7 linked regions of the Homo sapiens genome follow. The protein of the gene in region 4 interacts with the protein of the main gene of each other region in a pairwise test. Each region holds a gene or a part of one and is shown on either strand. Other genes may lie near its edges.

Evidence for each region.
Region 1: the proteins of KLK6 (region 4) and SDCCAG8 interact in binary tests that used the Homo sapiens proteins (3 or more experiments, as listed by UniProt).
Region 2: the proteins of KLK6 (region 4) and TNFAIP8L1 interact in binary tests that used the Homo sapiens proteins (3 or more experiments, as listed by UniProt).
Region 3: the proteins of KLK6 (region 4) and BCAP31 interact in binary tests that used the Homo sapiens proteins (3 or more experiments, as listed by UniProt).
Region 5: the proteins of KLK6 (region 4) and METTL13 interact in binary tests that used the Homo sapiens proteins (3 or more experiments, as listed by UniProt).
Region 6: the proteins of KLK6 (region 4) and FAAP20 interact in binary tests that used the Homo sapiens proteins (3 or more experiments, as listed by UniProt).
Region 7: the proteins of KLK6 (region 4) and EIF4B interact in binary tests that used the Homo sapiens proteins (3 or more experiments, as listed by UniProt).

What each region holds. Positions count from the first base shown.
Region 1 is NC_000001.11:243,266,041-243,269,540, reverse strand, and holds part of SDCCAG8 (serologically defined colon cancer antigen 8), read right to left. Parts: intron 1,921-3,500; exon of another isoform or gene 1,368-1,920; intron 1-1,367. UniProt on the Homo sapiens protein: Plays a role in the establishment of cell polarity and epithelial lumen formation. Also plays an essential role in ciliogenesis and subsequent Hedgehog signaling pathway that requires the presence of intact primary cilia for pathway activation.
Region 2 is NC_000019.10:4,638,371-4,642,315, reverse strand, and holds the start of TNFAIP8L1 (tumor necrosis factor alpha-induced protein 8-like protein 1), read right to left. Parts: upstream 2,801-3,945; 5' UTR 2,687-2,800; intron 2,300-2,686; exon of another isoform or gene 2,157-2,299; intron 1,365-2,156; exon of another isoform or gene 1,316-1,364; intron 1-1,315. UniProt on the Homo sapiens protein: Acts as a negative regulator of mTOR activity.
Region 3 is NC_000023.11:153,703,888-153,707,387, reverse strand, and holds part of BCAP31 (B-cell receptor-associated protein 31), read left to right. Parts: intron 1-3,293; coding exon 3,294-3,429; intron 3,430-3,500. UniProt on the Homo sapiens protein: Functions as a chaperone protein. Is one of the most abundant endoplasmic reticulum (ER) proteins.
Region 4 is NC_000019.10:50,963,092-50,966,591, reverse strand, and holds part of KLK6 (kallikrein-6 isoform A preproprotein), read left to right. Parts: intron 1-2,081; exon of another isoform or gene 2,082-2,164; intron 2,165-2,925; exon of another isoform or gene 2,926-3,036; intron 3,037-3,042; coding exon 3,043-3,290; intron 3,291-3,500. UniProt on the Homo sapiens protein: Serine protease which exhibits a preference for Arg over Lys in the substrate P1 position and for Ser or Pro in the P2 position.
Region 5 is NC_000001.11:171,794,938-171,798,216, reverse strand, and holds the end of METTL13 (eEF1A lysine and N-terminal methyltransferase), read right to left. Parts: intron 1,736-3,279; coding exon 1,461-1,735; 3' UTR 501-1,460; downstream 1-500. UniProt on the Homo sapiens protein: Dual methyltransferase that catalyzes methylation of elongation factor 1-alpha (EEF1A1 and EEF1A2) at two different positions, and is therefore involved in the regulation of mRNA translation.
Region 6 is NC_000001.11:2,189,048-2,191,772, reverse strand, and holds the end of FAAP20 (Fanconi anemia core complex-associated protein 20), read left to right. Parts: exon of another isoform or gene 1-1,975; intron 1,976-1,991; coding exon 1,992-2,064; 3' UTR 2,065-2,225; downstream 2,226-2,725. UniProt on the Homo sapiens protein: Component of the Fanconi anemia (FA) complex required to recruit the FA complex to DNA interstrand cross-links (ICLs) and promote ICLs repair.
Region 7 is NC_000012.12:53,037,456-53,040,085, forward strand, and holds part of EIF4B (eukaryotic translation initiation factor 4B), read left to right. Parts: coding exon 1-167; intron 168-900; coding exon 901-956; intron 957-1,782; coding exon 1,783-1,888; intron 1,889-2,174; coding exon 2,175-2,247; intron 2,248-2,630. UniProt on the Homo sapiens protein: Required for the binding of mRNA to ribosomes. Functions in close association with EIF4-F and EIF4-A. Binds near the 5'-terminal cap of mRNA in presence of EIF-4F and ATP.

The sequences.
Region 1 (3,500 bases), on a different chromosome or scaffold from region 4:
CGGTACAGCTCTTTCTATATACTGCTGGCCAACCACACCTCATAGATTCTTGGTTAGTGCAACTGACCACCCCTAGAACACACAAAAACTGTCTAAAATGAAGTATTTTAAGGTATATTACTGTGATAGTTCATCTCTAAAAATAGCCTCCAAGGGGTTGCAGCGAGCCGAGATCGCACCACTGCACTCCAGCCTGGCAAGAGAGCGAGACTGTTTCAGAAAAAAAAAAAAAAAAAAATAGCCTCCAAGGAACCCAGCCTCATTCCCTTGTTCTCTTCTAATCTGAAACTGACTGGGCCTGTAATCTGCATTAACCAATAGAATGCAATAAAAGTTATACCATGTCACACCCAAGCCTCATCTTTAAAAGGACTGGCAGCTTCTGCTTCCTCTTGGAATGTTTGCTTTTGGGAGCCCTAAGCCGCTATGTAAGATATCTGACTACCCTGCTGGAGAGACCTGTGAAGAGCATACGTGGAGAGGAAGAGAGAGGCCCTGAGACCCCATGAAGAAAGAGAAAAGCCCTCCCCGCACTGCACCCCGCTGCCCCACTCTGACAGCCCAGTCCTCCAGAGGACTCCAGCACCAGAGGCACGAAGAAAGAGAAAAGCCCTCCCCGCGCTGCACCCCGCTGCCCCACTCTGACAGCCCAGTCCTCCAGAGGACTCCAGCACCAGAGGCCCTCTAACTGCAATGGCACGAAAGAGACCTGATTCATTACCAACCATGTATAAAAATACATTTATAAACATATATTCTGTAGGACCTTGAAAAGCAGTTTCCATTTTGTCCAAGTGCACTGATTTCAAAGTTTGGAACAGAAACAAAAGCAATGTTAGTACTTAATAGAAAAAAAAAGTCTCTGTTATACAATATCTAATACAGTTTCTTTACTTGCAGCAACTCATTTTCTACTTTGATAAAAGAAAACATGTATTTCAGGTCAGGGTTCGACAATGAAATTCTATTACTCAACTATACAAGAGACACAGTTAATTTATCACCATATTTTTCTCCATACCAATCCTATGTCCACACAGATCTTTCTTTGAAATGAATTTGGCGCTGATTACTAATGAAAACTGGCCTCCTCTGACTCATCATGAGTTTAAGGAAGTTCAGATAAGACGCATTCCTGGTTTTGGGAATATATGAAACTGTGATAGTTTTACAATAACTTAGTATTAGAAAATAGAATAGAAAAGCGATTTGGTCATGGAAAAGGAAAATCAAAGTGTTACATGATAAGCAATTCAGTTCATGGAGCTTTAGATTTATGCCCTTAAATCCACGAATAAAACACTTATCTTTATTGAATCTATTAGAAAGGAACGAGACAGTTTGACTAACATAAAAATGTATTCCAGGTAAAAGCATTGCACCGTTGGTGATTACGGAAGAAACAGGAGTGTGGTGTGACCATGAGGAAGCAAAAGAAAATGAGGAACTATACAACCATGAAGCAAACGCTTAGTCTCAGAGATCAGAGGCTTAAAGAAAAGGATAGATTAAAACCTAAAGAGAAAGAAAAGAAGGATCCCAGCGCGTTAAAGGAAAGAGAAGTTCCGCAACACCTTTCCTGATTATTTTGCCAATATAATACACAGCTGGGCCCACCTTACCACATCCTCGTTGATACCAACTTTATCAACTTTTCCATAAAAGCCAAACTGGACTTAGTGCAGTCAATGATGGGCTGTCTGCATGTCAAGTGTATCCCTTGTATAACTGATTGTGTAATGGCTGAAATTGAGAAATTGGGGCAGAAGTATTGAGTGGCTCTAAGGATCGCCAAGGATCCAAGATTTGAACAATTACCATGTACACACACAGGAACCTATGCACATGACTGCTTAGTACAGAGAGTAACTCAGCCTAAGTGTGTGTAAGTGTTACATTGTGCCCACAGTTGACCGGGACTTTTTTTTTTTTTTTCTTGAGAGGGAGTTTGGCTCTTGTCGCCCAGGCTGGAGTGCGATGGCGCAATCTCGGCTCACCGCACCCTCCGCCTCTCGGGTTCAAGCGATTCTCCTGCCTCAGCCTCCCCAATAGCTGGGATTACAGGTACCTGTCACCACGCCCGGCTAATTCTGTATTTTTTTTTAGTAGAGACGGGGTTTCTCCACGTTGGTCAGGCTGGTCTCAAACTCCCGACCTCAGGTGAAATCCGCCCGTCTCAGCCTCCAAAAGTCTTGGGATTACAGGCGTAAGCCACCACGCCCAGTGACCGGGACCTTAAAAGAAGAATCCATAAGATTCCTGGAATTCCTATCATGTATATTTCTTTTTTTTTTTTTTAAGACGGAGTCTCGCTCTGTCGCCCAGGCTGCAGTGTAGTGGTGCGATCTTCACTCACTACAACCTCCGCCTCTCAGGTTCACGCCATTCTCCTGCCTCAGCCTCCCGAGAAACTGGGACTACAGTTACACGCCACCACGCGCAGCTAATTTTTGTACTTTTAGTACAGACAGGGTTTCACCGTGTTAGCGAGGATGGTCTCGATCTCCTGACTTTGTGATCCGCCTGCCTCGGCCTCCCAAAGTGCTGGGGTTACAAGCGTGAGCCACCGCGCCCAGCATTTTTTTTTTTTTTTTTTTGAGACGAAGTTGCACTCTTGTTGCCCAGGCTGGAGTGCAAGTAGTGCAGTCTCAGCTCACTGTGGCTCTGCCTCCAGGGTTCAGATGGTTCTCCTTCCTCAGCCTCCTGAGTGGCTGGGATTGCAGGCATGTGCCACAGTGCCCAGCTAATTTCTTTTTTTTTTTTTGTATTTATAATAGAGACAAATACTTTTGTATTTTTAGTACAGAAAAATACACCTCGGCCTCCCAAAGTGCTGGGATTGCAGGCATGAGCCACCGTGCCTGGCCTACTCACTTTTTGATGCTGTTTTGAAATTGATATTTTGTCTCATAAAAATTTTAGTCCAGGCACAGTGGCTCATGTCTGTGGTCCTGGGACTTTGGGAGGCTAAGGTGGGTGGATCACCTGAGGTCAAGAGTTCAAGACCAGCCTGAACAACGTGACAAAACCCCATCTGTACTAAAAATACAAAAAAGGTTGGCAGGTTGTGGTGTTGTGTGCCTGTGGTCCTGGCTGCTGGGGAGGCTGAGGCAACAGAGTTGCTTGAAGCCGGGGGGCGGAGGTTGCAGTGAGCCGAGATCACACCACTGCATTCCAGGCTGGGTGACAGAGTGAGACTGTCTCATAAAAAAAAAAAAAGAAAAAGAAAAAAAAATTCAGTGATGGTCAAAGGGTACAAAATCTCAGACAGGAAGAATATGTTTTATACTTTTTTTGAGTTCTATTGTACAGTGTGGTGCATATACTTAATAATGGAGTATTACACATTTCAAAATTGATGTTCTCATCACAGAAATGTATTGGAAGTATTGGATATGTTAACTAGCTTTATTTAATTATTCCACATTGTATCCACAATTTATGACATCACTTTGTAACCCATAAATTTATACAATTATAAATTGTCAATTTACAATAAA
Region 2 (3,945 bases), about 46 Mb from region 4:
AGAGACAGGGTTTTGCCCTCTTGGCCAGGCTGGTCTCGAATTCCTGACCTCAGGTGATCCGGCCACCTCAGCCTCCCAAAGTGCTGGGATTACAGGCGTGAGCCACGGCGCCCAGCCAATTCTCTTCTTTTTCTTTGAGACAGGGTTTCACTCCTGTCGCCCAGGCTGAAGTGCAGTGGCATGAGCTCGGCTCACTGCAGCCTCAACCTCCCTGGGCTCAGGTGATCCTCCCACCTCAGCCTCCAGAGTGGCTGGGACTACAGGCCTGCGACACCACACCTGGCTAATTTTTTTTTCTTTGTTTTAAGTAGAGACAGGGTTTCACCATGTTGCCCAGGCTGGGAAATTCTCTAGATGGACCTGCAAGTTTTTGGTTATAAGGAAACTGAGTCACAGAGGGTCAGGAGCTTGCCTGTTTATAAAGCAGTGATGTGGCAGAATCAGAATTTGAACCCAGCCTTTAACCTAGTGCAATCCTTTCCTCATCCTAGTCAATGGCACATTTGGGGTTCAAGTCTCGTCTCTCCCAGAGCCCACCCCAGAGGGGAAGGATCGAAGCCTTAGGAAGCTTCTAGAAGTACTGTGTCCTGTAATCCCCTCCTCGGGCTTTTAACAATATCTTGTTGAATCTCCCCCACCCCTCAAAGCACCCTCCCTCCCCACAGTTATCTCAGCCCCACAAGAAAAAGGAGATGACCAGCCCCATTGGACAGATGGGGAAACTGAGGCCTAGAAGCTGGGGATTTACAAGATCCCAAGAACTCTGCCAGAGGTCCCTGCGTCAAAGCTCGAGCGGGTGTGATTCCAGGGAGGTCATCTGCTGAGGGGTGTCGGGAGATGCTGGGAAGGGGCAGGCATGCTGTGGAACTGGGCCGTTCCTGCCTCTCGCTCTGCCTCCTTGCCCTGCTCCCCGTCTGTAACACCTGAGCTGTACCTGGGCAAGTGTGAGTCATTTTTTAGCGTTGACGTCTCTCTGGGAGGAGTGTTCCCCTGTCAACGGCTGGAGTTTTGTCCTCAAGGCACCCTTTCGTGGCCCCATTGGACAGACAGGGACACTGAGGCCTCCGGAACCCACCATACTGAATTGTCAAGCAATCAAAAGACCCCTCACCCACCTGGGCTGACCCCTGGGGGAACGGGGATGAGGAAACTGAGGCTCTGGGGGCACCTGACCGTCGGTCCAAGGCCACACAGTGGGAGGGGCCGTACCGCGGGGCCTCAGACCTGCACCCGTCTGCAGAGCCACCCCACCATTGGAGCAGGGTTCAAGTCCCCCCCCCGGCCCCATATTCCCTGCAGGGGTCCAGGCACTCACCCACCACCTGTATCCCAGGCTGCTCCAGCCTCTGGCCAGTGCCCGATTCACCCAGGTGTTTGTGTGGCTGGAGACAGCCCTTTGTTCACGGTTTCCATAGGTACAGCGTCCCTGAGCGGCCCCTCCTCTGCCCCTCCCAGCCCTTGCCTGTGCAGGTCCTGGGTCCGGCCCATCCAGGGAGCTTGTTATGTTTCAAAGTTGGCGCCCTCGGACCTGCCGTAGTGGCAGAGGGCACAGCCCATGCAAAGGCCCTGAGAGAGGACCTCGCCTGGGGTGTTGGAGAAACAGGAGGAGGCCAGTGTGACTGGGGCAGAGCCACAGCGAGAGTCAGGCAGGTTATGAGCAGGGCCTGTATTCCTGCATCTGATCCCCCAGCAGCCCTCAACTTGGGGAGTTACGACCCACTCCTGTTTTACAGATGAGGAAACTGAGGCTCCGCAGAATTGAAAAACTGGTTCAAGATATCATGCGGGTGGCAGAGCTCAAACCTAGATTGGTCCAAGCTCCGCCACCACTGGGCTGGCCCCCCTGGGGCCTCCCAAGGCGTTCATCGCCTCCAGCTGAGCTGGGACTGGCTCAGGAAATAAACTCTGGCGGCCTGTTTACACCTGGGGCTGCTCCTCCACCAGCCCTTCCCCCCTCCATAGAGAAGGTGCTGGGAAATGTGAGGATGCAGAGAAAACAGATTCTGTCCTGCCTCTGTCCCCACTTCCCTGGACAAACATTGGAAGCATTGGCCTCTTTCTAGGCCTTAGTTTCCCATCCCAGGAAATGGGCCTAGTTCGACTTCACAGAAAAGGCCAGGAGGCGGCAGGTGTCCTTCAGATCACCTGCCAATTACCTTAGCAGCGACGGTCCCAGTTCACAGCTGGCAAAACTGAGGCCAAGTCCCCACAGGCCACTTGGGAGCTCATTAGGGGCCAGTCTGGGTGGGCCCGGGCTGGCCTAGGCCTGGCTCCCCGCCACCGATGCCTGGACCGATGCCTGGTTTAGCTAGAAGCTACAGTCATGCCCACCTCCGCACGGCTGGCCCAGCTGCCCACCGCCTGGAATGCCCTCAGGGTTCTGGAATCTGGCCTGAGCACCTGCGGCCCTACAGTTAAAGGGGGCAGAGTCCACTAGAGTCCACATGGGGGATGGGGGTGCTGGTCCCAGAGCAGAGCCCCACGCCAAGGGGGGCAATTGAGACTCAATCTGTCTCCCCCTAACCTATACAGCGAGAGTGACAGAGAGACAGACGGAAACTGAGGCAGGAATGTAGACGGACAGGCGGTGGGGTGCAGAAGCATTAAGGGGCGGGAGAGACAGAGGGCGGCCAGGTGGCCCCCGAGATGCGCTGAAATGGGGGGCGCCCCGGCACTGCTCGCTCACCTACTCTCGAAGCAGAGTCCGTACGTCCAACCGTCGGGGGTCCGTCCAGCCGCCTCCGTGGGCCGGGGCCGTTGCCGCGGCGGTGGGAGCAGCGCCGGAGCCGGGGCCGGGGCCGGGGCGGGGCGGGCAGCGCGGCCCCGCCCTCCACTCGCCTCGCCCCTCGGCAGGCCACGCCCTCCACTCGCCCCGCCCGCGCGGAAGGGACCGGAGAGTTGCCAGGCCTGGGGGGCGGGCCGAGCGCTCCGGATTAGCCAATGACAGGGCGGGCAATGTACGAAAAGGCCAATGGGAGCAGGGCACTGCGACGGGGGGGAAGTGGGGGGAAGGGGCGGAGCCTGGGGGCGGGGTCAGGCGGCTCTGGGGGATTCCTCCGGAATCGCGAAGGGGCCCGGATGCGGGGGCGAGGCCGTCGTGGGGGTGCCGGCCACAGAAAAGGGAAGAGATAAGAGTACGAGACAGACAGAGAACCTGGGGAGGGAGGCACAGAGACACCAACAGGAAGAGACCAGAGAGCCAAAAGGCAAAACAGACCAACCACGTGGTTCTGCACGGGCCCCTTCCTCCTTCTGGGGCTAGTTTACCCGCCTGGGTAATAGGAATTTCGGCAGAAGCGTGTTTCTCAAAGTACGGCCTCGGGGAACCCTTCGCGTCAGAAAGATCTGAGAGTCCATTTTAAAATGCAGATTCCAACTAGGTGTGGTGCCTCACGCCTGGAATCCCAGCACTTTGGGAGGCCAAGGCAGGAGGATCCCTTGAGCCCAGGAGTTTGAAACCAGCCTGGGCAACCTAGGGAGACCCTGTCTCTACAAAAAAAAAAAAAAAAAGAAAGAAAGAAAAAGAAGAAGATCAAAATAAGTTAAAATTTTAAAAATACAGAGTTCTGTGCCACAAGAAGGGATGAATCTAACCCAGGGTTGTGGGGCTATAGATGAATCTTTGGGGTGAGGTGGAGGGCTCCTGGAGACCTCATCAGAGGATCCCCAGGTCCAGCCTCGATTTCCGTAGGAATGAGCCTGCAGGACACACAGGAGCCTCCCGGCTGCGCAGCGCCAGCTGGGGTCCCCCGGGGAGGATGCAGCTGTGAGTCCTGGGAACCAGGCCCTGGAGCTGCTCCCAGGTCCCCTGCAGCACCATTTCCGCCCTGCAGCCCAACTCTGGGTCCCGGTTGCAGCTAGGGCCTAGGGAGCCCATAGCAACCTCGCTGCTTCTTCCTCCAGGAAGCCAGACAACAAATTGTTGAGGGCCTGTTGTGTGTCCTG
Region 3 (3,500 bases), on a different chromosome or scaffold from region 4:
CCCCTTTTTTTTTTTAGCTATACTTGCTGGAGTGGGCGGAAGACCCCTTTTCAGTGTGCCAGGTATGGGAGTGCAGAGATGAAGGCACAGTGCCCAGCCTAAAGACCTTCATAGCCTGGTAGGGCAGCCATATAAACGGATGGCAGCCACGCAGAGAACAGAGAATGAGGTAGTTACATGCGGGTGCCTGGGGGGCTGCTGCAGGAGCCCCCAGAAGGCGTCCCTCTGATGGGGTGGGAGATCCAAAAGGGTTTCTGGGGGGAGGTGAGGATTGAGCTGGGTCGAGAGGACATTCCGGCCTGGAGAACTGCCACACAGAGCCAGGCGTGTTCCAGGAATGGTGAGGGGTTAGGTGTTACTAGAGCAGGGGGCCACGTGGTTAGTGAAGGAGGAGAGCTCACTGAGGGCATGCGTGCTGGCAGCAGGTGGCTTAAGCAGAGGGCTGACATGGTCGGATTTGCCTTGCTCTGGGAGGTGGATGGGAAAGCCGTATGGCAGCAGATAGGGAGGAGGCGCCAGCAGTGGGGATGATGGTGGGCATGTTTGCAGTTGACATGGAAAGTGCTGGGTTGTGGCTTGGGCTGGGGGCCAAGAGGGCTGAGTCCAAGGCGGTTTGCCTGCCCACCACTACAGCAGGGGCTACACGAGGTGGTCAGGTCAGGCAGGACAAGGGAAGGCCCGTTTTGGACAAGCTGAGTCTAGAATGTCTCTGGGGACATCCAGGAGCCAATGTTTAGCAGGAGGTTAGGTATGAGTCTGGGCCACAGAGAAAACCCTTTCGGGGATAAGAGTGGCTGGGAGGAAGGTATAGGGTGTCAGCTGAAGAGTGCAGACCCCAGAGGGAGCAGAATAACAGTGGGAGGAGGGTGTTGCGAGGGGACCTCAGGAGGGTAACTTAGCAGCAGAGCAAGGAGTTCAGGGTGACCTCCGGCCTGGGCGGTTAGGAGGCCACTGGTGGCCCTGCTGCTGGCTTGGAAGGGCAGGCCTTGGCCAGCCTAGGTTGAGGAATATATGGGAGGGAAAAGACCAGGGGCTTGGGCAGGGTGACTCCAGGAAGGAGGCAGTTGAAGGTGAGGTTCCTGGGGGGAGAATGATCCCGGGTCATCCAGCAGGAAGAGAGAGGACCTAGAAGGTGTGAAAAAGAACTATCGGGCTGGGGGTGCAGTGGGAGGAGTATGCCCGGGGTGCTGTGGGGGTGGGGAGCGCCTGTGAGGGTTGGCAAGAGGAAGGGGAACCGGGGCCTGGCAGAGGGGAGCCCCAGACTGTCTCAAGGCTGGGAACTGAAGGCCTGGGCTGGGGCTGAGCAGGGCCAGGCTTTCGGACACACACAGCGTGGATCTTGCGCTGGACTTTGTGTATGCCCTGGCCTATCTTGGAAGCCCTGGTTCTCAATAGCCGGGAAGGGCCTGGGACGGTCCGAAAAGAGCTGGGCCTCTGCTGCACTGCCGCGGAAGCATTTGTGTTAGCTATCTCCCTGGGTACTGGGGTGACAGCCATGGGCACTCACCAGCAGCCGCTTGCCTGGCCTGGTGGCGGGGAGTATAGCCTTCAGTCTTGCTTGGTCCTCTCTCTACCACCAGGTGGCATGACCCCCACCCCTCAATTCCAGCTGGGAGGAGCGGTCCTCTTCCTCTTTCTACATCACTGGGATCCGCTCTGGGGCTGGGCAGCTCCTTGCCGGGGGCCTGGGTCTTAGTCAGACTTGCCTTTCTTTCTAGGCCTCTCCATTGACTTCTGGCCATGCCGATGTGAGTCAGATGCATTGTTTCTCTCTGGCTCCTAGGGCGCTCAGTAGCTTCCTCCACCTTCAGGCTGTAGCCCAGTGCGGGGCAGGCTGGTGGGCAGCTGGGGGCTGAGGCAGGGAAACCTGAGCCCTAGGCCACGAGGTCCTGGGCCGCTAATTTTAGAAAGCACATGTCACTGGAAACTCTCCTTCTCTGCCAGGAATCAACGGCCTGGCTCTCCTGGTGCTGCCAGGGGCCCCTGGGAGCCTCTCCCCAAACCAGGAACCTCAGGGGTGTCTCCTGGCCCGGGTGGGTACTTTCTGTCCTGAGTACATCTGGAAAGGGGCTCTGCCGAGGCCCTGGAGAGCCATGGCTTGGGCCAGGGAGGTAGCTCACCTTGTCTGCTCTTTACTTTCTCCAGCCCTTCCGGGCTGCCCCTGGCCATGAGCAGAGGCTGTGAAGTGTGAAGGCCTGGCTGGGGCAGGAGGCCACTTCGACTCTTCTGAGTAAGCTGTTGTTGAAGCACTCTGGACTAAGCAGATTTGTCTCTTCCTTCCCCCAGGCCCTGTGTGACCCTTGCCTTCTGAGGTGTGTGAGAAAGGAACCCCTGCCTTGTTTTGACTGTTTGAACGAGTCCTTCCCTCCTCTCTTCCTGCCAGCTAACATCTCGGGGCAAGGGTGAACCAAGGGAAATGAAGTGGCCATTCCAATCTCTGTTTGGGGACTAGCATCTGCCTCCAGCTGCCACCTGTTTGCCTGTCTCTCCTGGCTGCTTCAGAGAGGCAGCCTGCGCCTGTGTCCTGATTCCTCTACACCCTCCAGCCCAAGAAGACCTCATTCGGGGTGCTGTTACATAACGGATGTGTTCCAGCGCAGCCTGCATGATGGGTTGGGAAGGAGGCTGGCCAGAGAAGAGAGTTCTATCTTACGTTGGGACCTGGGAGCTGTTCCCTGTTAGTTTAGAGAGCAGAGTGGTTCCGAGCTCAGGTTCTGGAGTCAGGCAGACATAATTTGGAATTCCAGCCATGTCCATTTCTGGTTTTTGGCCTTGGGTACATTGATTTACGCTGCTGAACTTCAGTTTCCTCTTCTATAAGCTGGGGCAGTGATAGTAACTTCCTCATCAGGTAGATGTGAGGATGCGGCCTGGCATGTTGGAAGTGCTTGGATTGATTAGCTTCTCTCGTTACCTTACCAAGGCAAGCCCAGCCTCGCAGGGAGGAAGGTGGTGCTGTGGCTTGTCTGGCACGTCTAGGCCCCGACCCGGAAAGTGCCGCGTTCTGGGACCTCATGCTGTAGCGAGGCTCTTCCCAGCCCCCCAGGCTCCTGCTTCCAGCCCCTCTGAGAGCTGAGGGTGGCCGTTGGGCACAGCGGCAGAGGACGGCTCCTGGGCCCCACCTTTTCCCTCACGCTGCCAGCACCAGGTTGGCGGCTTCTCACTCGGCTGCCTTGGCAAGAGGGCAGGTCCAGGCTGGAGCTAGGTGTGGAGTGGGAGCAACCAGGAGGTGCTCCTGCCAGCCCTTCATGCTCTTTTTCTCACTTCTCCCTTCTTTTTGTAAATAATTGCAGCCTGCTTAGACGCCTGGTGACTCTCATTTCGCAGCAGGCCACGCTGCTGGCCTCCAATGAAGCCTTTAAAAAGCAGGCGGAGAGTGCTAGTGAGGCGGCCAAGAAGTACATGGAGGAGAATGACCAGCTCAAGAAGGTGAGCCCAGCTTCCCGACCCACCATGGGGCGTCCTGGTGTTACACTGTGGGAGCCACATTCTTCAGGGCC
Region 4 (3,500 bases):
TGACCTCAGGTGATCCGCCCGCCTCGCCCTCCCAAAGAGCTGGGATTACAGGCATGAGCCACCACCACACCCAGCCTGATTTACATTTTTACAAGCACCCTGGCTACCACGTGGAACGTGGTCTGGGCAAGAGAGAGGGAGGGAGGCCCACGTGGGGGCTGTTGCTTTCATCCGGCGACATAGGAGGGTGGCTTGAACCCAGGCGGTCGCAGTGGGGATGGAGGGATGTTGAATATCTTGGGATGTGGAATTCTGAGACTGAGCCAGCAGAATCTGGCAACGAGGAACAGGAGGGAGAGGAAGAAGCACGGCTGGCTTCCGTGTATTTGTCCTGAACAACTGGGTGTTTTGCCACGTCTTTCTCTGAGTTGTGGGAGAGGGAAAGAGAAACAGGCCGGGTGTAGGCAGGGGAGCATCTGACATTTTGCTTTAGCCACGATGAGTTGGAGATGCCGGGGAGATGTCCCAGCAGGGAGGCCAGGGAGGACTCTGGAGCTCAGAGGAGAGGTCAGGGCTGGAGGTTAAAATGAAGGCATCGTCAGCAAACAGGTGTATTTAAAGCCATGGGACTAGATGAGATCATCCAAAAAGCTGGCATAGTTGGAGGAGCTGGAGGGCCCAGGACAAAAACCCTGGGCGCTGATCCTCACTAGTCAGATTCACGACAGCTGCCACTTGTTTGATGCTAACTACCAATCAGGTGCTGAGTGAAACCATGTACACACCTTTCCTGGAATGCCCACCACAAGGGACTCTTGGCACCATTTTGCAAATGAGGAAACTGAGGTGCAGGGAAATAGCAAGTGACAATCCCTGGGGTGGTTCCCCTGACCCCAAGGAGACCTTGGATGACTCTCACCACCATCATTCATTCCTTTGATGTACATTGACTAAGAGCACCTGCTAAGTGCCACATTCGAGTTGGGCAGTGGAGATTCAGCAATGGATGGGACACACACGTCATCCCTGCCCTCGGGAGCACAAGGACAGAAAGGTGCAGACAAGCAAAGTGAGGGCTGGGCATGGTGGCTCACGCCTGTAATCCCAGCACTTTGGGAGGCCGAGGTGGGTGGATTACCTGAGTTCGAGACCAGCTTGGCCAACATGGCTCAACCCTGTCTCTACTGAAAATACAAAAAATTAGCCAGGCGTGGTGGTGGGCTTCTGTAATTCCAGCAACTTGGGAGGCTAAGGCAGGAGAATTGCTTGAACGTGGGAGGCGGAGGTTGCAGTGAGCCGAGATCGCGCCACTGCACTCCAGCCTGAACCACAGAGCGAGACTCTGTCTAAAAAAAAAAAAAGGAAAGAAAGAAGCAGCAAATTGGGCTGGCCGTGGTGGCTCATGCCTGTAATCCCAGCACTTTGGGAGGCCGAGGCGGGTGGATCACTCGAGCCCAGGAGTACAAAGCTGCAGTGAGCTGTGATCTACAGAACACCACTGCAGATCCAGCCTGGGTGACAGAGCGAGACCCTGTCTCAAAAAAACAAACAAACAAAAGAAGCAAACCCTTCAAAACCCCATATAATTACAAATTATGAAGGAAAAGAATACGGGTACCTACTTTAGATGGAGGAGGGTCAGGAAGGACTTTCTAATGAGATAAAATCCAAGCGGAGGCATGAAGATGGGAAAAGGAATGTTCAGGGCAGAGGAAAGGCTGTGATAACACCCCTGAGGTGAGAACCGTCTTGAGTATTCTCAGAAAATAAAATTTCCCGTTCACTGGGGGGCAGAAGGTGCTGGGAGATAAGGTTGGAAAGTGACTACAGCCAGATCACACAGGGGCTCCAGTGCCAAGTGGAGGAGCCCAGGCTTTATTCTTAGGACAATGGGGAGCCATGGGTGATGTCTGAGCAAGGGAGTGACTCTCTGTTTCAGGAATATGTATCAAACACCTATCCTGTGCCAGGTGCTGATCAACGCACTGGAGATACTATATCTGAATAGAACAAAAATCCCCATCTTGACATCCTAGAGCTGCACTGTCTAATATGGTAGCCATCAGCCACATATAGCAAATTACATTGAAATTAATGAAATGGAAAATCCACAAGCCACATTTCAAGTACTCAGCAGCCACCTGTAGCTTGTGGTTCCCCCAGCCACCTCTGGACAGTGCAGATCGAGATCATGGCATCGTAGCATTTAGTGGACAGCATTGCTCTGCAAGGAGGAGAAATAACACAATGAGTAAATATTTAACAATAAATATATAGCAGGTCGGATGATTGTGATAGGTTCTCTGGTGGAACAGAAAGCAGGGGAGGGAGATAGGAATTGCCTACTAACAGGTATTTGTATTTTAATTGGGCAACTAAGGAAGGCTTCCCTGAGAGGCGACATTTAAAGGAAGTGAGGGAGTGAGCTATGCAGATACTTGGAGGACAGACTTGCTGGCAGAGGGAACAGCAGTGCAAAGGCCCTGAGGTGGGAAGATCACTATTGTGTTCAAGGCAAGACAGGGAAGCCAGCGTTTGGCTGGAGCAGAGGGAGAGAAGGGGAGAGTGGGAGGAGAAGATGTCTGTGAGATGATGGGGCAGTGCTTGCAAGGCCTGGTGTGCCACGTTGAGAACTTTGGCTTTGATTCTGAGTGAGATGGGAGTCATAGGAGGGGCTGAGCAGAGGAGGCACAGGACCAACTTACATTGTTAAAATATCTCTGGTTGCTTTGTGGAGGATGGACTGTGGGGGACCAGAGACAGAGCAGGGAGCCCAGTGAGGAGGCTACTGCTCTAGTTCAGGTAGGAAGTGAAAAGGCAGCTCAAACCAAGATGGTAGCCGTGGGAAAGGTGAGATGTGGCCAGATTCTGGATATGCTTCAGAGAGGCAAAAGGAATTCTGGACAGCTTGGATGTAGGGCATGAAATAAAGAGAGTGAAGAATAGCCCCCAAGATTATTCTGAAAGGATGGAATTGCCATTTACCCAGCTGGGGAAGACTGTGGGAGGAGCAGGCCAGCGATTCATGACTTCCCAGCCCTCTCTGAAGCCTCAACTGCAGCCCAAGGGCTCCAGGTGAGACCCAGCCCTCTTCCTTCCCAGGAATCTTCAGGTCTTCCTGGGGAAGCATAACCTTCGGCAAAGGGAGAGTTCCCAGGAGCAGAGTTCTGTTGTCCGGGCTGTGATCCACCCTGACTATGATGCCGCCAGCCATGACCAGGACATCATGCTGTTGCGCCTGGCACGCCCAGCCAAACTCTCTGAACTCATCCAGCCCCTTCCCCTGGAGAGGGACTGCTCAGCCAACACCACCAGCTGCCACATCCTGGGCTGGGGCAAGACAGCAGATGGTCAGTAGTGGGAGGCTGGTGGGGAGCAGGCTACTGGCTACTTGGGGAAGTGTGCCAAAGGATGGGGAGTGGGAAAATTGGTGAGGGGCCATGGGAAGATGGGCTAATGGTGAGGACCAATGGGACAGGGTTTCAATGGGAGAAAGGTCAAGGGGGAGGGAGAGTGAATTTGGGAGCTGGGCCAGTGAGTGAACAGCCAATGGAAAATGT
Region 5 (3,279 bases), on a different chromosome or scaffold from region 4:
TGTCTCAAAAACAAGGAAGAAAAAAGAAAGGACTTGCCAAGTAAGGTCCTCTGGGGTACACAGACCTGACATGAGGGATAATCTTCCCGTTACGGGGTTCCAGGGGAAGATCCCCTCCTAAAGAAAGAGAACCAAGTATTTCTAATGGGTAAGATCTAAAAACACTTCTCTGCACTCCCTCCTCTCCTTAACAGACTGACACTACTTTCTAAGGATGACAACCTAACTGAAATACAGACAGTCTCTGACTTACAATTTTTCAAGTTTACAATGGGTTATCAGGGTATTAAATGCATTTTCTACTTATGATGGATTTATCAGGATATAACCCCATCGTAGGCTGAAGAGCATCTGTATGCTTCAACTGAAAGGTCAGGGTCCATTTTTAAAGGGCCTGTGGAAAGAAGAGCCAGGTGGTGAATGGTGACAATGCCTATTTTCCATGGCACTGCTCATTAAGTCAACCTCGGTATAATTAGGAAAGACAAAATTCAAGCCAGTCTTGGAATCATTGGTTTAATGGTTCTGAATAAATGGTTAAGATTGATGTTTCCAGCCAAGTGAGATTTGGGTTTAGATATAGTTTGGGCTTAAGTATCCTTTATCTCAGATTAAATGAGACAGTGCATGTAAACCACTTAGAAGAATGCCTGGAACACATTAACTTTCATTACTAATGTTTTTGGTCATTCTTAAACATTTTCACTTCTGCCACCACCCTTTATGCAGTCTGGCACATAGCTGTCACTCAGCAAATGTGAGCAAACAAACACTAGAGACTTTAGTCTGCCAGGTCTCTAACATGCAAAGCCATGGGGCCAGGTCCATACACTCCCTCCACTGAGAAAAAGACAAATGGCTTAGGCTACAAGGTTTGGGTCACCAAGGAAAGCTGTCAAATAATGAAGTGGGTAAGCAGATTCCTAAAAATTGGAACCATTTCAGCAGCAGTTTCATCCACAGGGAGACAGAGTAAATGCTCTCTCAAATCTGTCTCACATCTATAGAAACCTTACTCTATTTATGGTCTTTTGGCATCTTGCTCTGCTATCTCACTTGAGATCACTCCTATAGAACTAATAGAGGAATAAATCAAAAGCAAACCAGTATAAGTAGAGACGCAATAAAATTTGGATGTCTTGAGTTCTGAGGGGCTTGCACACACTTGTTAAGGCATGCAGTGTGTGCTAGGGGCTTCAGCAGGGAACTCCACTCAAGGACGTGGTGTAGGAAGCAAAGACAAACCAACCCAAGTGGTACTGAAGAGGACAAGATGGGAAGGACATTTTTATTTTCCCTAATCTTCAGGCAACCTCACCAAGCTGGAGGTCACATGTAGCTGAGTGTGAAACCAAGAAAAATACGAAGCTTCAAAAGTACTGTGCGTTGTATTTCTTCATTCTCTGGCAGGCTGGGAGTCCAAGGTCAGTCTAGGCAGGAGGGCTGCTTGGCCTAAGCAGTCACACAATTTTCACCGTCTTGAGCATATCTGACAAGACATACGTGTCATCCCAACCCCTCCCAGGCTTCCTCAGGGTCCGCTCCAAAGCCTGGGCTGTTTCTAGGAGCTCTGGTGTGGCAAGTTTTTGCTCAGGGTGCAGCTGACAGAACAGGATCTCATTCACTTCACCCTCAATTCGCCGGACATATAGGAGGGGGAACACTGCCTTGAGCCCAGCCAGCACTGAGTCTTTTAGCCCCAAGTCTCGGCACACAAGGTTGAGAATAAAAACACCTATAGGGTAGGAAGAAAAGTCAGAATGACCTCACATCAGGAGACATATGAAAGACAAGGATCGGCTTTGAGGAAAATACCAATTCCTGTCCCAGGGAGACTGGTGGACTAAAACACACGGTGGTGATGAGTTTGCAGAGAATACACAGCATAGAAAGGCAGATGGAGAAAAGCATGGGGAGCATGTGAGCCATAAACAAACTCCAGCCTTATTTCTTGCTCTTCTGTGCTGCTCACATGTTATTTTACCATTCTCCAAGCCTCAGTTTCCCAAATAGCTTCTCAAAGAATAGCTTTGAGAAAGAAGTGATTCCCAGCTGGGCACGGTGGCTCATGTCTATGATCCCATCACTTTGGGAGGCTGAGGCAGGCGGATCACTCGAAGTCAGGAGTTTGAGACCAGCCTGGCCAAAATGGTGAAACCCCGGCTCTACTAAAAATATAAAAATTAGCTGGGCATGGTGGTGGACGCCTGTAATCCCAGCTGCTAGGGAGGCTGAGGCAGGAGCTGCTAGTGGGGCTGAGGCAGGAGAATCTCTTGAACCCAGGAGGCAGAGGTTGCAGTGAGCCAAAATCCAGCCTGGGTGACGGAATGAGACTTTGTCTCAATCAATCAATAGAAAGTGATTCCCTACGAAAGTAAAATTTACCAACTCCACAGGGATATTACATTCTTGGCATACACACCATAGAGTATTAACCAGTGACAGGGCCGAGGTTATCTTGACTTCTGACAATTAAGATTCCAAATCAAGCCAGTTACCACAGTGCCTTACACCAAATCAAAAATACCTAGAGGGTTGTTAACATAGGGATTAAAGGCTCCAGTTTTGAGGTGACAAGGCACTGACTTTGAGCCCCAACTGTTACCTTGCGTCACCTTGGCAAATCTTCAACCTCAGTTTCCTCATCCAAAAAGTGGACTGCTATGAAGATTAAATAACACACTGCCTAGTAGAGCACGTGTAGGAAGCATCATGTAGTAGCTAGCATCACCATGCTGGTGGGAGTGTGAACTGCTACAACCACTTTGTAAAACTGTGTGGTAGCATCTACAAAAGCCAAAAACATACCCATAACCTATGATCCAGCAATTACAACCCTGTGTATATACCCAAGAGATCTGAAAACATAATTCATCAAAAGGCATATACTAGAATGTTAATGGCAGCACCACTTATAATAGACCCACACAGGAAACAAACCAAATACGAACAGTAGAATGGATAAGCGAATTGTGTTAAGTTACATGATATAACACAGCAATAAAAATAAGCCATGTAAACACAACACTGTGAATGAGTCTCACAAACATCATGTTGAGTGAAAGAAAATGGACACTTAAAGAGTACATTCAGCCAAGTTCAGTGGCTCATGCCTGTAATCCCAGCACTTTGGGAGGCCAAGGTAGGAGGATCGCTTGAGGCTAGGAGTTTGAGACCAGCCTGGGCAACATGTTGAGATCCTATCTCTACAAAAAATAAAAATAAAAAAATTAGCCAGGCATGGTGGCATCCACCTGTAGTCCCAGCTACTCAGGTGAC
Region 6 (2,725 bases), on a different chromosome or scaffold from region 4:
TGGGTTGGTCACTGGGATTTTTTTTTTTTTTTGAGACGGTGTCTCGCTCTGTCGCCCAGGCTGGAGTGCAGTGGCATGATCTCGGCTCACTGCAACATCTGCCTCCCGGGTTCAAGCGATTCTCCTGCCTCAGTCTCCTGAGTAGCTGGGATTACAGGCGTCACCACACCTGGCTAATTTTTGTATTTTTAGTAGAGACAGGGTTTCACCATGTTGGTCAGGCTGGTCTTGAACTGATCTCAGGTGATCCGCCCGTCTCGGCCTCCCAAAGTGCTGGGATTACAGGCGTGAGCCACCGCGCCCGGCCGGTCGTTGGGATTTTAACAGCCCTGAGGCCCCTCACGCTGCCAGGTGCCAGCCCACCCTGCAGCCCTGCTCCCCTGCCCACACGCAGAAGCCACCAGAGGCTTCTGGACTGAGCCCCCACTGTCCTGCAGCCGGGCTGGCCTGTCCACACCACAGGGCGTGCTCAGCTACTGAGCAGAAGCGTCACGGACAGGGCAGATCAGGCCAGGACAAAGCTCTTCCGCCACAGGCGGGGGTCTGAAGGCATCTCAGAGGGCCCCCAAACAAGGGACGCTGCCTGGAAACCCCGGGACAAGATGACCTCGGTTCAGATCTTAGCACCTTCTGGCAACCTTAGAGAAAGCTTCTGGAGGGAGGGGCTGGTTCCCAGGATGGGCAGAAGCCGGAAAGTCTCAGACTGAGTGACCCTCGGGGGCTTCAGAAGGCACTGGGTGGGCTCTGCCAGAGTGAGAAGGCAGCTGATGGCTGCTGGAGCCAGCCCCGGGAGTGGGGGTCCAGCTATGGTCTGGAGAGGGGGACTTGAGGGTTGCAGTGGCCACACAGACGGGGCACAGGAGCCAAAGGAAGGGACACAGCAAAGCCCAAGGGTAAAACGGCGCGCCGTGGACTGGTCTGAGGGCAGAGGCTGTAGGGGAGCGAGGGGCGGTGTGGCTGACAGGTGGACACAGGGACACGTGTCCTGTGGACTTGGCCGCTCAGTGGGGGTGTGTCCCCCAGCAGTGGCGTGTGAGGGATGGTCACTCTGATGGGACACTGACCACTTGGCCTCCAGCAAGATCTAGGCCCAAGTCTAGGCTGAAGCCGCCCACTCAGCCCCGGGACATCGTCCCCGGCAGCTCTGCTGAGCACGCCAGCTCCGGCACTCTCCGGGAGTCATGGCCGGAAGTCAACTGTCCTGGCTTCCAGGGCCACACCTTGGCCAGGCCTGGTGATGGTCATTTCCAGCCGCTCCAGTTGGGCTGATGGGGCCACATGAGGCCGGGGATAGAAGGTGGCTGCGCTCAGACACCCCTCCCGGCCCCACTGGATGCCCAGGGCGCTGACCTGCAGGACTCGGATGGGTTTTCTCCTGCCACCCCTGCCTGGCCGGCCACCATCCCAGCGCCAGCGCCCTCCTGAGAGGTGCAGGGGCCGCGTGGGGCCTCCCAGAGTGGCAGGTTGGCAGCCTGCACGCCGGTGACGGCGTCCTTCTCCGTGGTGAGGCTTGGTCCCTCCTCGCCAGAAACACCAATTCTCTGACGTGAGCTGCACATCCACTGCCCAGCCATGTTTACTCTTCTGCCTCCTGTAGACGCAGCCGCGGCGGCTCTCCCTGGCAGGCCACCCGCCGTCCTGCCTTTTCTCCGGGTCAGGCCGCCTGTCTGCCGGGCTCCACGATGAGCGCGTTCTCAAGCTGAGCAGGCGCCAGAATCCCATAGAGAGGCTTGTTGAGACACAGCTTCCCCACCCCCAGCTCGGACGCAGGGGCCTGGCGTGGCCTCCTCACGGGCACGGTGTGGAAACACCACTGGCGGTTACCGTGGTCTGCCGGGTGCATGAGCCCCTGGGGTGGCCCCGTCCCTTGTTTCTGACCAGCCGGATCCTCTCCAGCGGCAGGAGCAGAGAGGGCCCGGAGGTCCAGACGGTGCTCTCTGCGGCCAGCATGCCGCGGAGGTGGCCGAGTGAGTGTGGCCCCTCCCTTGCAGGCTGACCCAGCTGGATGTTGACAGCCACCTGGCCCAGTGCTTGGCCGAAAGCACAGAAGACGTGACGTGGTGAGCGCCATCCAAGAGCCCTGCGCAGAGTGCGGCGCCCGGACACGCTCTCCCCCGCCAGCAGCCCCGCCTCTCGGCTCCCCCGCCAGCAGCCCCGCCTCTCGGCTCCCCCGCATGCGCATTAAAGCAGGGCGGGCTCCTGTCTGTCTCTGTGTTGTGATGAAACGTCTGCCGCTTTTCTTTCTGACGTTTGGTTTAGGGCAGATTCACTGCAGTGCAATCAGAACCAGACACAGCCCCAGGCGGGGAAGCTGACCCCTTTCCCCTGGCGCCCCCACTGTGGACAGCGGACGGGCTGAGGGTAGCTCGTTTTCCTAACTTTGTGGACAGGCGTGGTTAGCTCATGTGCAGTCACGGTTTTTTTTTTGTTTTTTTTTTTTTGAGACAGGGTCTCGCTCTGTCGCCCAGGCTGGAGTGCAGTGGTGCAATCACGGCTCATTGCAGCCTCAGACTCCTGGGCTTGATGATCCTCCCACCTCAGCCTCCTGAATAGCTGGGACTACAGGCGCGCGTCACCACACCCAGCGACTTTTAGTATTTTTTGTACAGATGGAGGGGTCTTGCCATGTTGCCCAGGCTGGTCTCGAACTCCTAGGCCCAAGCGATCCTCCCGCCTTGGCTTCCTGAAGTGCTGGGATTACAGGCGTGAGCCAGCAGCCCCAGCC
Region 7 (2,630 bases), on a different chromosome or scaffold from region 4:
AATAAGGAGGAAGATTGCCACTCTCCAACTTCTAAACCTCCCAAACCTGATCAGCCCCTAAAGGTAATGCCAGCCCCTCCACCAAAGGAGAATGCTTGGGTGAAGCGAAGTTCTAACCCTCCTGCTCGATCTCAGAGCTCAGACACAGAGCAGCAGTCCCCTACAAGGTGAGTCAGTTTGGAAACAGTAGTTGGTTAACTGCAGATTCTAAAATACTGTGATGTAATGATGGAAGATCTCCTACGGGATGCCAGCGTTGTATAGCACCTTATAAGTTATGCTGGCTTTAGTCTCTTAGTGTGCTGGAACTGGCTCATAAGACCTAGTTGTTCCATTTTCTGGAGTTCCACCACTTTGATAGCTTGAAATCAGCTATGATGGGAGTACTAATGCCGCACAAATCTGCAAATACTGTAAGTCAGAGGCTTCCCTTTTGCCACATATTGGCAGTATGGTAGGGGGTAACTTCCTTTCATTTCTCTTAAGTCTTCTCATTTGTAAGCAAAATAGCAACACTATTAGCCTGGCGTGGTGGCAGGTACCTGTAATCCCAGCTACTCGGGAGGCTGAGGCAGGAGAATTGCTTGAACCTGAGAGCGGAGGTTGCAGTGAGCCGAGATGTGCCATTGCACTCCAGCCTGGGCGACAGAGTTAAGACTCCAAAAGAAAAGAAAATAGCAATACTAATCCTGCATGATGTGATGATTAGAAAGCATATGGCACTTTAGTGTTCAAATTACTGCTTTCATTGTAATCTTTCCCATATTTTAATGTTCCATAACATTGAGTATGATTTTGTTTTCTATAAAGCTTACCCACTGCATTTGGAGGATGATTATGTTTCTTGGTTGTTTTCTCCCTGAAACAACTGATGAATGTGATTACCTGTTTTCCTTCTAGTGGTGGGGGAAAAGTAGCTCCAGCTCAACCATCTGAGGAAGGACCAGGAAGGAAAGGTGAGCTCATAGTATGGGAAATAGGTTTTTCACCTAGAAGCCTAAATAAAAAGGCCTCCAAAATTAGATTTTGAAGAGCAGTGTGTCTCGCACCTGATACCGTGTTAAGAGTTCTTGGGTTGGCCAGGCGCAGGGGCTCACACCTGTAATCCCAGCACTTTGGGAGGCCAAGGCGGGCAGATCACAGGGCAGGAGTTTGAGACCAGCCTTACCAACATGGTGAAACCCCGTCTCTATTAAAAATACAAAAAAAATTAGCCGGGTGTGGTGGCACATGCCTGTAATCCCAGCTACTCGGGAGACGCTGAGGCAGGAGAATTGCTTGAACCCGGGAGACGGAGGTTGCAGTAAGCCAAGATGGCCCCACTGCACTCCAGCCTGGGCGACAGAGCAAGACTCTGTCTCAAAAAAAAAAGAATTATTGGGTTATCTACCTTTTCTTGCCAGTAGAGGGAGGAGTGGCCTCTTTGGAGAAAGTATGAAACCCTGCCCTTTCCTGGTAGAACATTTCTTTGACGGGGAGAAAAAAATCGGAAGGAAATTAACCAAGGTCACTACAGAGCGTCATAATCTTTATTTCCAGCTTGCTTTTCATGATGGCATATCCCTACATGGAACTTTTTAGTGGATTTTGTTTGTTTTTTGTATTTTTGTGTGCTGTAGAGGATGTGGAAAGAAGGGCTTCAGGAAGGAAGTCTGGGTTGGGGTGAGGTTAGTTTCCCTCAGTACATGTGGGCACAATTTTCTTCAGCTTAAGGGAAATCTTAGGAGAGGGACATTGATACTTTTACTTGCCTTTAATTTGTTTACATTACTGCCCAAGCAGATGAAAATAAAGTAGATGGGATGAATGCCCCAAAAGGCCAAACTGGGAACTCTAGCCGTGGTCCAGGCGACGGAGGGAACAGAGACCACTGGAAGGAGTCAGATAGGTATGCTTGTTCTCTTTCTCATCTTTCCTCTGATCCACATGTTTGTGTAATTAAGAAATTAAGTTCTTGGTTCTCAGAGCACTGCCAGATCGCTCATTGTGAGCAAACTAAAGTCAGCCAACGTAGACAGTTAAGATTCTGAAAATCTAGAAGTAATACATCATCCAGACAACAAGGACTGTTGACTAGAGGTGCCTGTTCAGTGCCTTGAAACTGCATGCATACACATGTTTGTATTAGGCGAGTCCTTTCCTAAAGACATGGTTTTATGCTTACGTCTCTGCAGGAAAGATGGCAAAAAGGATCAAGACTCCAGATCTGCACCTGAGCCAAAGAAACCTGAGGAAAATCCAGCTTCCGTAAGTGTTGAAGGCTGCTCCCAATTTTTCATTCTAAGAAAAATTCTTAGAATTCTAAGTATTCTTACTAAGAATTAAAAATTCTTAGTATTCTAAACTTTTTGCCGTTGGACTTCTTTCCATTTGGAATACAAAGTGTTTGGAAATAAGACATTGGTCTTTACTGAAATAGCGAAAGAAGTTTAGCTTTTTCCTGGTTTCTGTCTTCCTTTGTTCTCATCCCTTCTGCAAGGTGTAGAGGTGGTATGAGACTATAGTAAGATCGCATGTGCCTCTGACCCTCTTCCCTAGCTCCTCTCCAATGGACAATGCTGATGAGCAAGCAAGTGGGTGTCATCTGACTGTCATCCCCCATTGCCAAAGGATCAGTATCCTGTGTCTTG